3 linked regions of the Homo sapiens genome follow. The protein of the gene in region 1 purifies or fractionates together with the protein of each later gene. This does not show direct contact. Each region holds a gene or a part of one and is shown on either strand. Other genes may lie near its edges.

Region 1 (3,729 bases):
GGGATGTAGAGGTTGCAGCGAGCCGAGATCGCGCCACTGCACGCCAGCCTGGGTGACAGAGGGAGACTGTCGCAAAAAAAAGTTTTATGTTAACTTGAGAAGAGCTGTTCGTTCTGTTTCTTCTCTTACTTTTTGTAGCAGTGACATTGGATAGATGTTTGGCTCTTTTGTGTGTTAACATTTAGTTGCTTTGTTTTTCTTGAGCCAACACGGGAAAGCTATCCATGGGCACAGAGGGTTTTGGGTGCTCCGTGGTCACTCTCTGGCCCCCTGCATCCTCGGCCGCTCCCTCCATCCTCTTCCCTGCCGAGCTCACCGCGCTGCCTCCTGCCCCTTCCTTCCTAGCAGCTGGTGCTCAGGGGTGAAGCTGTTGGGGGTCTGTGCACCCCATCCCCCCAGGACGGCTGCCCCCTGTCTCCTCCGCTCAGGATCCTGCTGACACGGAACGGTCAGCGCTTCTGCCTCCCGCGGACATTCTCTCTGGCTCTGGGACTGAGCCTTGCGCGTGTTGGAGCAGGAGGGGTGGAGCGACTTGACCACTAGCAGCCAGCACTGTCCACGGGGCCTGGCAGTGGCTCGGTCACTTTTATTCCTGTATGTTGAACACAAGCTGATGGAATTTAAAGCAGAATTGACCTCATTAATTGAGCTAGAATGATTATCATCAGGTTGTTGAAATAGCAATGCGTTTGGGTTACTGGGGCTCCGACTCGAGCCCTGGCACCTGCTCTTTGTGAAGGCCGTGGGCACGAGGGAGCTTTGGTCTCCTGGGCTGGAGGGCGGCTGGGCCACTCTGCTCACACCTCCTTCCGCCTGCAGCCATCCTACGATGTGCTGCTGCTGCTGCTGCTGCTAGTGCTCCTGCTGCAGGCCGGCCTCAACACGGGCACCGCCATCCAGTGCGTGCGCTTCAAGGTCAGTGCAAGGCTGCAGGGTGCATCCTGGGACACCCAGAACGGCCCGCAGGAGCGCCTGGCTGGGGAGGTGAGTGGCCTGCAGGGGGAGGGGGCACTGGGGAGGTGAGTGGCCCACGGGGGTGCCCAGCCAGGGAGGTGAGAAGCCTGTGGGGTGGGGGGAAGCTGGGGAGGTGAGTGGCCCACAGGGGTGCCCAGCCGGGGAGGTGAGTGGCCTGCAGGGGGAGGGGGTGCTGGGGAGGTGAGTAGCCCACAGGGGTGCCCAGCCGGGGAGGTGAGTGGCCTGCGGTGCAGGTGCTGGGGAGGTGAGTGGCCCATGGGGGGCCCAGCCAGGGAGGTGAGAAGCCTGTGGGGTGGGGGCACTGGGGAGGTGAGTGGCCCACAGGGGTGCTCAGCCAGGGAGGTGAGAGGCCTGTGGGTTTCAGGGGTGCTGGGGAGGTGAGTGGCCCACAGGAGCACCCGCTGGGGAGGTGAGAGGCCTGCGGTGGGGGCTCCTGTCCTGGTGAGGGCCTCCGAGGGCCACACGACGTGGCCCTCGAAGATTCATTGTGCCACTTTGTATTTTTAAAAACACCCCAGAAAAACCCCGAAGAAGTAAAATGTCTTTCTTTTCTTTTTTTTTTTTTTTTTTGAGAAGGAGTCTCAGTCTGTCACCCAGACTGGAGTGCAGTGGCGCGATCACGGCTCACCACAACCTCCGCCTCCTGGGTTCAAGCAATTCTCCTGCCTCAGCCTCCCGAGTAGCTGGGACTACAGGCACCCGCCACCAAGCCCAGCTAATTTTTCTATTTTTAGTAGAGATGGGGTTTCACTATGTTGGTTAGACTGGTCTCGAACTCCTGACCTCATGATCCGCCTGCCTTGGCCTCCCAAAGTGCTGGAATTACAGGCGTGAGCCACCGCGCCCAGCCGTAAAATGTCTTTTAAAAATACAAACACAAAGCCTGGGTAAACCCAGACCCATCCCTGGGAAATATTCTGGACTTAATGCTTTCAGATTTGCTCTTAGAGACACAGAAGAGGGCTTTGTGAGGACTCCCACAGGTCCTGAAGTTTCCTTCCCTGGTCTCTGGTGGGGACGCGGTTCTGCAGGGAAGGCAATGCCCACCCAGCCTGGCACATGGGGCTCCGTAAAGCTGGGGTGTCAACAACTTCTGGCTGTCACTGCCTGAACAATGTTCCCCCGGGCCCTGCCTACTGTCTTGCTGCCCCCACATCTGAAAGGCAGAGGCTCAGCGTCTTCCCCCCACCGAGCTACGGGTCCTGGTGGTGCTCCCCTGGGCAAACCTGCCCGCTGACCCTCAGGTGCAGTGACCACTAGGACTGTCACCTTGATGCCCAAACACCTGGGCAGCCACTCAGCGGGGCTCTGAGTCCTGCCCCACCTCTAGGCCATCCTGGGCGGACCGGCCGCTGCTCTTGCCCTGCACACCCTGCCCTCCTGTGTTCAGCACACCACCGGCCTCAGAACCTTGGTGCAGAGCCTCCAGTGCCCGCTAAGTCCCGGAGGACGCTCTCTTGCCCTTGGCTCGTTTCTCAGCTGACCCCGTCGCCCCCACCCTCCACCCTCCCTACTGCTGTTCCCTTAACCTGCCTCCTCAGTTGCTTTGCTGCCATTTTTCCTGGCTGTGGTCAGTCTCCCTGCTAGGACGGCAGTCCCTGGGCCTGAAATGAGACCCGCCTGGGTTTCTGTTGTGACCAGCAAGGCCCAGAGTCAGACGCATGAGGTGTTCTCCCCAGATCCCAGAACTGCTGGTCCCAGGGGCTCAGGGTGGGCGGCTGGGGCTCAGGGTGGGCGGCTGGGGCTCAGGATGGACGGCTGGGGCTCAAGGTGGGTGGCTTGGGCTCAGGGTGGGCGGTTGGGGCTCAGGGTGGGCGGCTGGGGCTCAGGGTGGACGGCTGGGGCTCAGGGTGGATGGCTGGGGCTTAGGGTGGACGGCTGGGGCCCAGGGGCTCAGGGTGGGTGGCTGGGGCTCAGGGTGGACAACTGGGGCTCAGGGTGGACAGCTGGGGCTCAGGGTGGACAACTGGGGCTCAGGGTGGACAGCTGGGGCTGGCGCTGTCCTCCCTTTTGCCTGGAGGCATCTGGTTACCTCTGCCTTAAGTGTTTTCTTCCTCAGCCGTCAGGCACATGCCCAACCTTGGGCGGCCTCCCCCCGCTCCCCGCCCCAGAGCCAGGGCAAGGGGCCGAGTGAAGGGCTGCTCCATCCCAGGCTCGGTAGAAACCGTGTGTGCGGGGGGGGATGCAGGCGTTTCTGGGACACTGAGGAAGTGAAGGCTTTTATCTCTTTCCACAGAGGCCCAGGGGTTAGTTTCCCCACTTCCTTCACATTCGAAGAAAACTTCTGAACGCTGGCTGCTCGCTGCCTGTGGCCGAGTGGCGTGTCCACCTTCCCGCCGCACAGGTGGCCCTGGTGAAGTAACACCTTTCCTGTCTCGGTTGCAGGTGGCCAGGAGCCCCCTGAAGGAGTTCGACAAGGAGAAAGCCTGGAGAGCCGTCGTGGTGCAAATGGCCCAGTGACCCCCAGACGCGGAAACCGGGTGGCAGCGCCCAGCCTGGCCCCAAGCATGGAAACGCACAACCCCTAATCGCCCTGAGCTACTGCTTCTAACACCTCTTTTCCCTTGTGTGAGGGCAAACCAGGCTGCAGGTGGGGTTTTCACTTCCTAGGGTAGTTTAATTTTAAAATAGGCCAATGTTGGCTAGTCTGTGCCTCAGTGAGATCAGTCAGCTCCGAGTGGCTCCCGTGTCGTAACAGCAGGAGCATGGCCGCAACTTCCCAGGCCGAGGAAGGGCCCCCGGCTCGGCCTCTTG
Region 2 (3,729 bases), on another chromosome or scaffold:
AGAGACACCCTGTCTCAAAAAACCAAAAACAAACAAACAAAAAAAAAACCCCTCAAATCTGAATAGACCAACAAAATATCACATAGAGCTTTAAAGAATCTTTTGATATTAGACAATAAGCAGATCTCTAAGAGAGACCCCTAGCACTTATGGATCCCTCCATGATGAGCAGACAAATGAGAGGGAATCAGGAACTCACCAGAATTCAGCTCTTTCACAAGAGAGGACATAGTGTTAGTGATGGAATCTGCAGCCACTAGCAAGTCATTCCTTAAGTTTCTTCTTGAACCTTCAGGGAAGAAGAAATAATTTAAAAAACCAAAGCTTCCTTCTATCCTAAATTTTTATGTTGTTTATTTATCCTTCCCATTAATAACCTAAAGCAAGAAAACTTCTAAGACTTCTCCTTTTCAGAAGTGCTTTAGTTCATTTCCTGAAACAAGAACAACAACAACAACAAAACACTGCTTAGGGCAGTGGGTCCTGCAGTAAGAAGACATGGCTAATGATGGAGTTTCATATATTATTTGTCCATATGGGGACAATTTTGAAGGTGAAAGAGAGCAGTATGAATAAGGCTGGCTGACCTGGCAAAACTGGGATGGTTCCAGGTAAACCAGTGCGTGTGGTCACCCTTCTTAAGAATAATCCACACAGATGAAAAATCAGGTTTTCCAGGAGAGCTGCGCCTTCCTAGCTGCTATTATTTTTCTTGCCCTTACCTGGTGGCTGAGCCCTTTAGATTCTGGTCTCTACTAGGACATGCGCTGTCTCCTATCAGGGCTCTTGGAGCTCTTCCTGCCAGTGTAAGTACCACTTGGGAATGGGAAACCCACATGCACTGAATGCCCCCAGAGCGTGAGAAAGGGGTGAGGATTCTTGTTTCTTCTGCCAAGACATGGGCAGATGCATGTCTGGTACTATAAATTGGAACTTAGACTATGTTTCTTTATGGCAGAGAAAGATTATTATTTTGTTTCAGGCACACTAAGGGTTAATGGAATTTCATTCCGTCATTTTTCAGAAAGTAATACTAACTAAATAAAATAATAAATGTTTAAATTAAAAAAATCAGAGTAGTTAAGTAAAAACATTAATTATAATGGAAATCACAAATTGATTTAAAATATAGTACATTTCTTTAAAATATGATTAAGAGAAGGGATATTTTCTTTCTAAAAATTAAAAGTTATTTTGTGAATTACATTTTTAAAAACTCTTGAGTTATATTCAGTGCCTAGAAGAAAAAGTTCTAATATAGATCCTTCCTTTTCCCTCAGAGTAGAGAGTTCATCATTCTCTCTCATTGAAGTGTGTTAAGATTTTATCACCCCTCTACATGGACGAGAGTACCTTTTTCCTCGCACTTTTGCTATCCCTGGATATTATGATGTTTCAAAACATTTTTTTAATCTTCTAGGCAAAAAGTGATACTTATTAAAATTTATATTTCTGTAATTAGAGGTTGAACATCTTTTCATATATTTATTGGCAATTTCTCTTTGTTCTTCTGTCTATTCGTATATTTCACCTGTTTTTGTTTTGGTGGTGTCTATTCTTTCTGATCTCTACATGATTTTTGTATAACTGAAATTATGAAACTTGATTGACACATATACTGGAAATGGTTTCCTCAAGACTGTTTTCTGTCTTTTAACTTTGTTTATGATCTCTTTTGCCTTAAAACCCATATTCAAACATGTCTCTCTTTTCCTTAGATCTCTATGTGAAGACTTCGAAGAATGTTAATGATATATTGCTAATTTAAAGAAAATGCAAATTGCAGACCCCAAAATGCAATGCATGATCCTATTTGTGTGAAAAAAAGAGTATGTGTCTATAATCACATCCTTAAACATATCTATTTACACAAAAGCAAAACTTTGGGAAGGATCAAACTGTTAATAGTGGTTACTTCTGGGAATGAAAGCTGCCGGTGAAGGTCTACAGAATGATTTTTTTATTATTATTCTCTATAAATTTAAAAAGTGATAGTAAGAAGAGGTTTTAAAAAGTGTTAAAAATATTTCTAAATTAATAAAGTTACTCTCCCTGTCATGGGAAAGTGCTGGCTGGCATCCCCATCCCTCTTTGTACTCCTCTAACTGCAGAGGCTTAACCCTGTAGCCCTGCCTTACAGAGGCAATGATTCAACTCTTCGGGGCATCAGAACAGGGAATCTGTCAAATGACTAAATGTCCTTCTTGGTTACCTCATTGCTAAAGAGCTGTGATTACTTATCTCAGTCTTGACTTTAATATAAAGAAAAGACAATATGAGATAAGAAAATCTCTAAGAATTAAAAAAAATAGATTACATTTATGAAGTTTTCTGGGGGTATTGGTGAAAAGATTTCCTGTCTTTTGATGAACAAAGACTTACTAAAAAATAAGGCAGGGCAACAAAAGCCAAAGGAAGGTAAAATCGTGAAGTGAGAACAAATTGGTGTAGGGAGTTCCCAAAATGGCTGGCAGGCCAGGCTCTGACACCAGCCATGAAAGACCCTACAATAGTCACATGTGGTTCTGACAACTCTTGACCACTCAATAGACCTTGGTGACCTATTTGCCACATAAAAGCAGACCACAACAAAAAATAAAGCCACTTACTTTGTGCAAATGCCTCTTGTACATCTCCCCCTACTCCTGTGAGGGAGTCCTGCGGCGTGTGCGTCGGGGTGGAGCAGGCTGACGCTGACCGGATGGGCATGGGAATTGGCCTGCTGATGGTGTGGCTGGGGGAGGAGCGGGGAGAGCCTGCCCCCTGAGTCTGGAGAGACAATGCAGGTCATTAATTTGCTTTCCCAAGAAAATGTCATATGTCATCCCCAATGCCTCAGTTGATTGTTGAAAACAGTGACAATGAAATTTCAAAGCAGGAGGAAATCCTAGGTAATTGTGTTGGTAATCCTAAAGCTAATTTGCAGGTGCAGATAATTTAGGACCTTATTGTATGTAATCTGAAGTTTGGGTTAAATATTGAAAGCTAAAACTATTAGTACAGCATTGCTCTACAGTATATGGGACATGTGCCCATAAAATGAAGGTACTGTTAAATGCAGATAATTACAAGGTGTGGATACTTTCTCCTTGAAGGAAGGTCTCCGAGGACTAAGAAGACATTAAGGAGAAAGTTTAAAATACAAACTAGAAGACTATTTGCAATGGATGCTTTCTGAATTTTCAACCTGACTGTACTAGCATTATCTTTAGAGGATAAGAGTTTAAATCATGTCATACAATATTGTGCATATTAAGTCTCAAATTAAGAATCAAATGAAGTGTAAATTGTTTTATCCCTATTTTATAGTAAAAGCTGATTTTGTCAAATTAGTAACTCAGGGATTCCAATGGGGAAGAAGAAGAAGAAGAAACCTTGTTTTCTAATTTTTTGGTATTATTTCCTGCAGGAAATGTCCTTCTCTTCTCCTATGAAAAAGCAGTATTCTAGCAGGACAATAAGAATAGTAGGATTTAAAGACAAGTAAAGAAAAAAGTAGAAAACAACTGAAGGAACTTATCTTTGCACTACAGTTTTTGGCATGAAACTATTCTGAGACTGTCACACTTTGAATCTTAAGGATTTGTCTCTAAATGAGGTGCCTTGGAAATATTCTCCCTGTTTTAATAATTAGTTGACAAAAGAAGTCAGCCACATGCGTAAGAAAATGCAAGGAGACCCTTGAGTGCATACACAACAGATTAGGTGTTCACATCAATTCCATCCCAG
Region 3 (2,268 bases), on another chromosome or scaffold:
TTGTCCTGGAGGCGGTGCCTGGGCGGGGAAGGGAAAAGCCCCTCAGGGGAGCCCCCACTCCCAGCCCAGCAGGGAAGAGGGTCTCCTCTGGGGAGAGGGGGGAGGTGTGGAAGCCAGGACGGCACCCCAGGTGAGAGCATCACATCTGCAGACGCCTCAGGGAGCATCCGTCCCAGACGGGGAGGCTGTGGTAAAGGCAAGAGACCAGGCCAGGGAGAAAGCCACAGAGGAGGCGCCAGTCAGGGCCCAGGCTTCCGGCTTCAAGGCCAGCCCTGCTGTCCCCAGGGGAGGTGAGCAGGAGCTCTGGGTCCAAGTCCCATCTTGGCCAAGGGACCCATAATCCATAATGCGTTTCCCACCTGCCCTAGGCCTCGGCCTCCCGCTGGTCTCCTGAGGGGTGTGATGGGATCACCACTGCTCGTGGCACCGGAGGCTCGGGGACAGCAGGCCCCGGATGTGCACACACACTTGCCTGCTCTTGAGTCGCTTGCTGATGAGGTACATGGCCGCTGCACCCATGTACTTGGCCACGGCACCCTCCACGGCTCCGAACTTGCCCTCGCGGACAATGTAGTCAAAGGACGCCAGAGCCTCGGTGGGCGTGCGGTACACATTGGGGGAGATCAGGTGCACCAGCCAGTCGTCCGCCCACTGCCGCCACTTCATCTCCTCCCTGCGGGCACGGGAGGGACTTCCTAAGCCAGGACCCGGGCTGTGTTGGGAGCAGGCTGCATTCTCTAGAACATACCCACTGCACGGGCGGGAAGCTGAAGCCTGAGCAGGAAGGTCTTTTTTTTTTTTTTGAGACAAAGTCTCGCTCTGTCACCCAGGCTGGAGTGCAATGGCACCATCTCAGCTCACTGCATCCTCCGCCTCCTGGGTTCAAGCGATTCTCCTGCTTCAGCCTCCTTAGTAGCTGGGATTATAGGTGTGTGCCTCCACACCTAGCTAATTTTTGCATTTTTATAGAGATGGGGTTTTGCCATGTTGGCCAGGCTGGTCTTGAACTCCTGACCTCAGGTGATCTGCCTGCCTCGGCCTCCCAACAGGCTGGGATTACAGGAGTGAGCCACCACGCCCGGCTGCAGGAAGGTCTCTACTGAAATCCGGCATGGCCCGGCCCCAGCCCCGCTGGTCTCCCATGCTGCTCCCTGCTCACGCCATCTTGCTCAGCTTGGTCCTACTCTACAGAAGACCCCTGCGGTCACCACCTTCCCCCGCCAGCCCCAGCCCCACTCACGTCCTGGCCTCCTTCCCACCATACACTTGCTGGGCCTCCTTCTCGTTGAGCATGAGCCAGTACTTATTGCCGAACTCGGTCACCTCCTTGCCCTGCTCGTTCACAGCCTTCATGGCTGGGTAGTAGGTGATGATCTCTTCCAGGGGCTGCCTTCGGAGAGAGCCACAATATCACCCCAACTCCTTCCCCCTCCGTCCCCTGTGGCCGACCAACCCCGCTGCCCCAGCCTCAGAGTGGAGCCAGGACCAACAAAGGCTCTCCGGACTCTTGCAGTAAGAGGGATTTGGAGTAGATGCCAGGGCTACCTCCCCAAGAGAGGGAGGTGTGGGGAGGACAAAGTAGGGGGCTTGGAGGAGGACGGCCACGGGCTACTCTGGAAAATCATTTTTTTTTTTTTTTGAGACGGAGTCTCGCTCTGTCACCCAGGCTGGAGTGCAGTGGCACGATCTTGGCTCACCGCAACCCTCTGCCTCCCGGGTTCAAGCGATTCTCCTGCCTCAGCCTCCTGAGTAGCTGGGACTACAGGCACTCGCCACTATGCCTGGCTAATTTTTGTATTTTTAGTAGAGATGGAGCTTCGCCATGTTGGCCAGGCTGGTCTGGAACTCCTGACCTCAGGTGATCTGCCTGCCTCGGCCTCCCAAAGTGCTGGGATTACAGGTGCGAGCCACTCTGTACTCTGGAAATCTAAGCAGCAGCTCCACGTGCTCCCAGGAGGGAACTCAGGGGAGGCCTCCCTGGAGGAAGCCACCAAAAGCAATGGCCACCTGGTCTCCGAGGGGCTCCTTACCCCGACACCAGGTAGGTCTTGAGGGCGCTGATGATGACAGAGGAGTCATTTAGTTGTTGCTGGAAGAGAAAAGGGTGGTTTAATCAGAGGTTGCAACCCAGCCGCTGGGAGTCACCAGGGGCTCTTTAACAAGACACTCTGGGCATTGTTTATCCATTCCTGGGGACATGCCCGGAGTCCTCCCCGCCCTGCCCTCAGGGCACCCATCCTAAGTAGGGAGACGTGGTTGTGGCCAATG

The links.
Region 2: the proteins of MLC1 (region 1) and DTNA purify together in Homo sapiens (affinity purification with western blotting, with the first as the bait; one study listed by BioGRID). This does not show direct contact.
Region 3: the proteins of MLC1 (region 1) and PTGES2 purify together in Homo sapiens (affinity purification with mass spectrometry; one large-scale study listed by BioGRID and IntAct). This does not show direct contact.

What each region holds. Positions count from the first base shown.
Region 1 is NC_000022.11:50,061,289-50,065,017, reverse strand, and holds part of MLC1 (membrane protein MLC1), read left to right. Parts: intron 1-819; coding exon 820-984; intron 985-3,360; coding exon 3,361-3,435; 3' UTR 3,436-3,729. UniProt on the Homo sapiens protein: Transmembrane protein mainly expressed in brain astrocytes that may play a role in transport across the blood-brain and brain-cerebrospinal fluid barriers. Regulates the response of astrocytes to hypo-osmosis by promoting calcium influx.
Region 2 is NC_000018.10:34,874,279-34,878,007, reverse strand, and holds part of DTNA (dystrobrevin alpha), read right to left. Parts: intron 2,770-3,729; coding exon 2,610-2,769; intron 290-2,609; coding exon 200-289; intron 1-199. UniProt on the Homo sapiens protein: May be involved in the formation and stability of synapses as well as being involved in the clustering of nicotinic acetylcholine receptors.
Region 3 is NC_000009.12:128,122,462-128,124,729, forward strand, and holds part of PTGES2 (prostaglandin E synthase 2), read right to left. Parts: intron 2,090-2,268; coding exon 2,031-2,089; intron 1,391-2,030; coding exon 1,241-1,390; intron 674-1,240; coding exon 473-673; intron 186-472; coding exon of another isoform or gene 140-185; exon of another isoform or gene 25-139; intron 19-24; coding exon 1-18. UniProt on the Homo sapiens protein: Isomerase that catalyzes the conversion of PGH2 into the more stable prostaglandin E2 (PGE2) (in vitro). The biological function and the GSH-dependent property of PTGES2 is still under debate.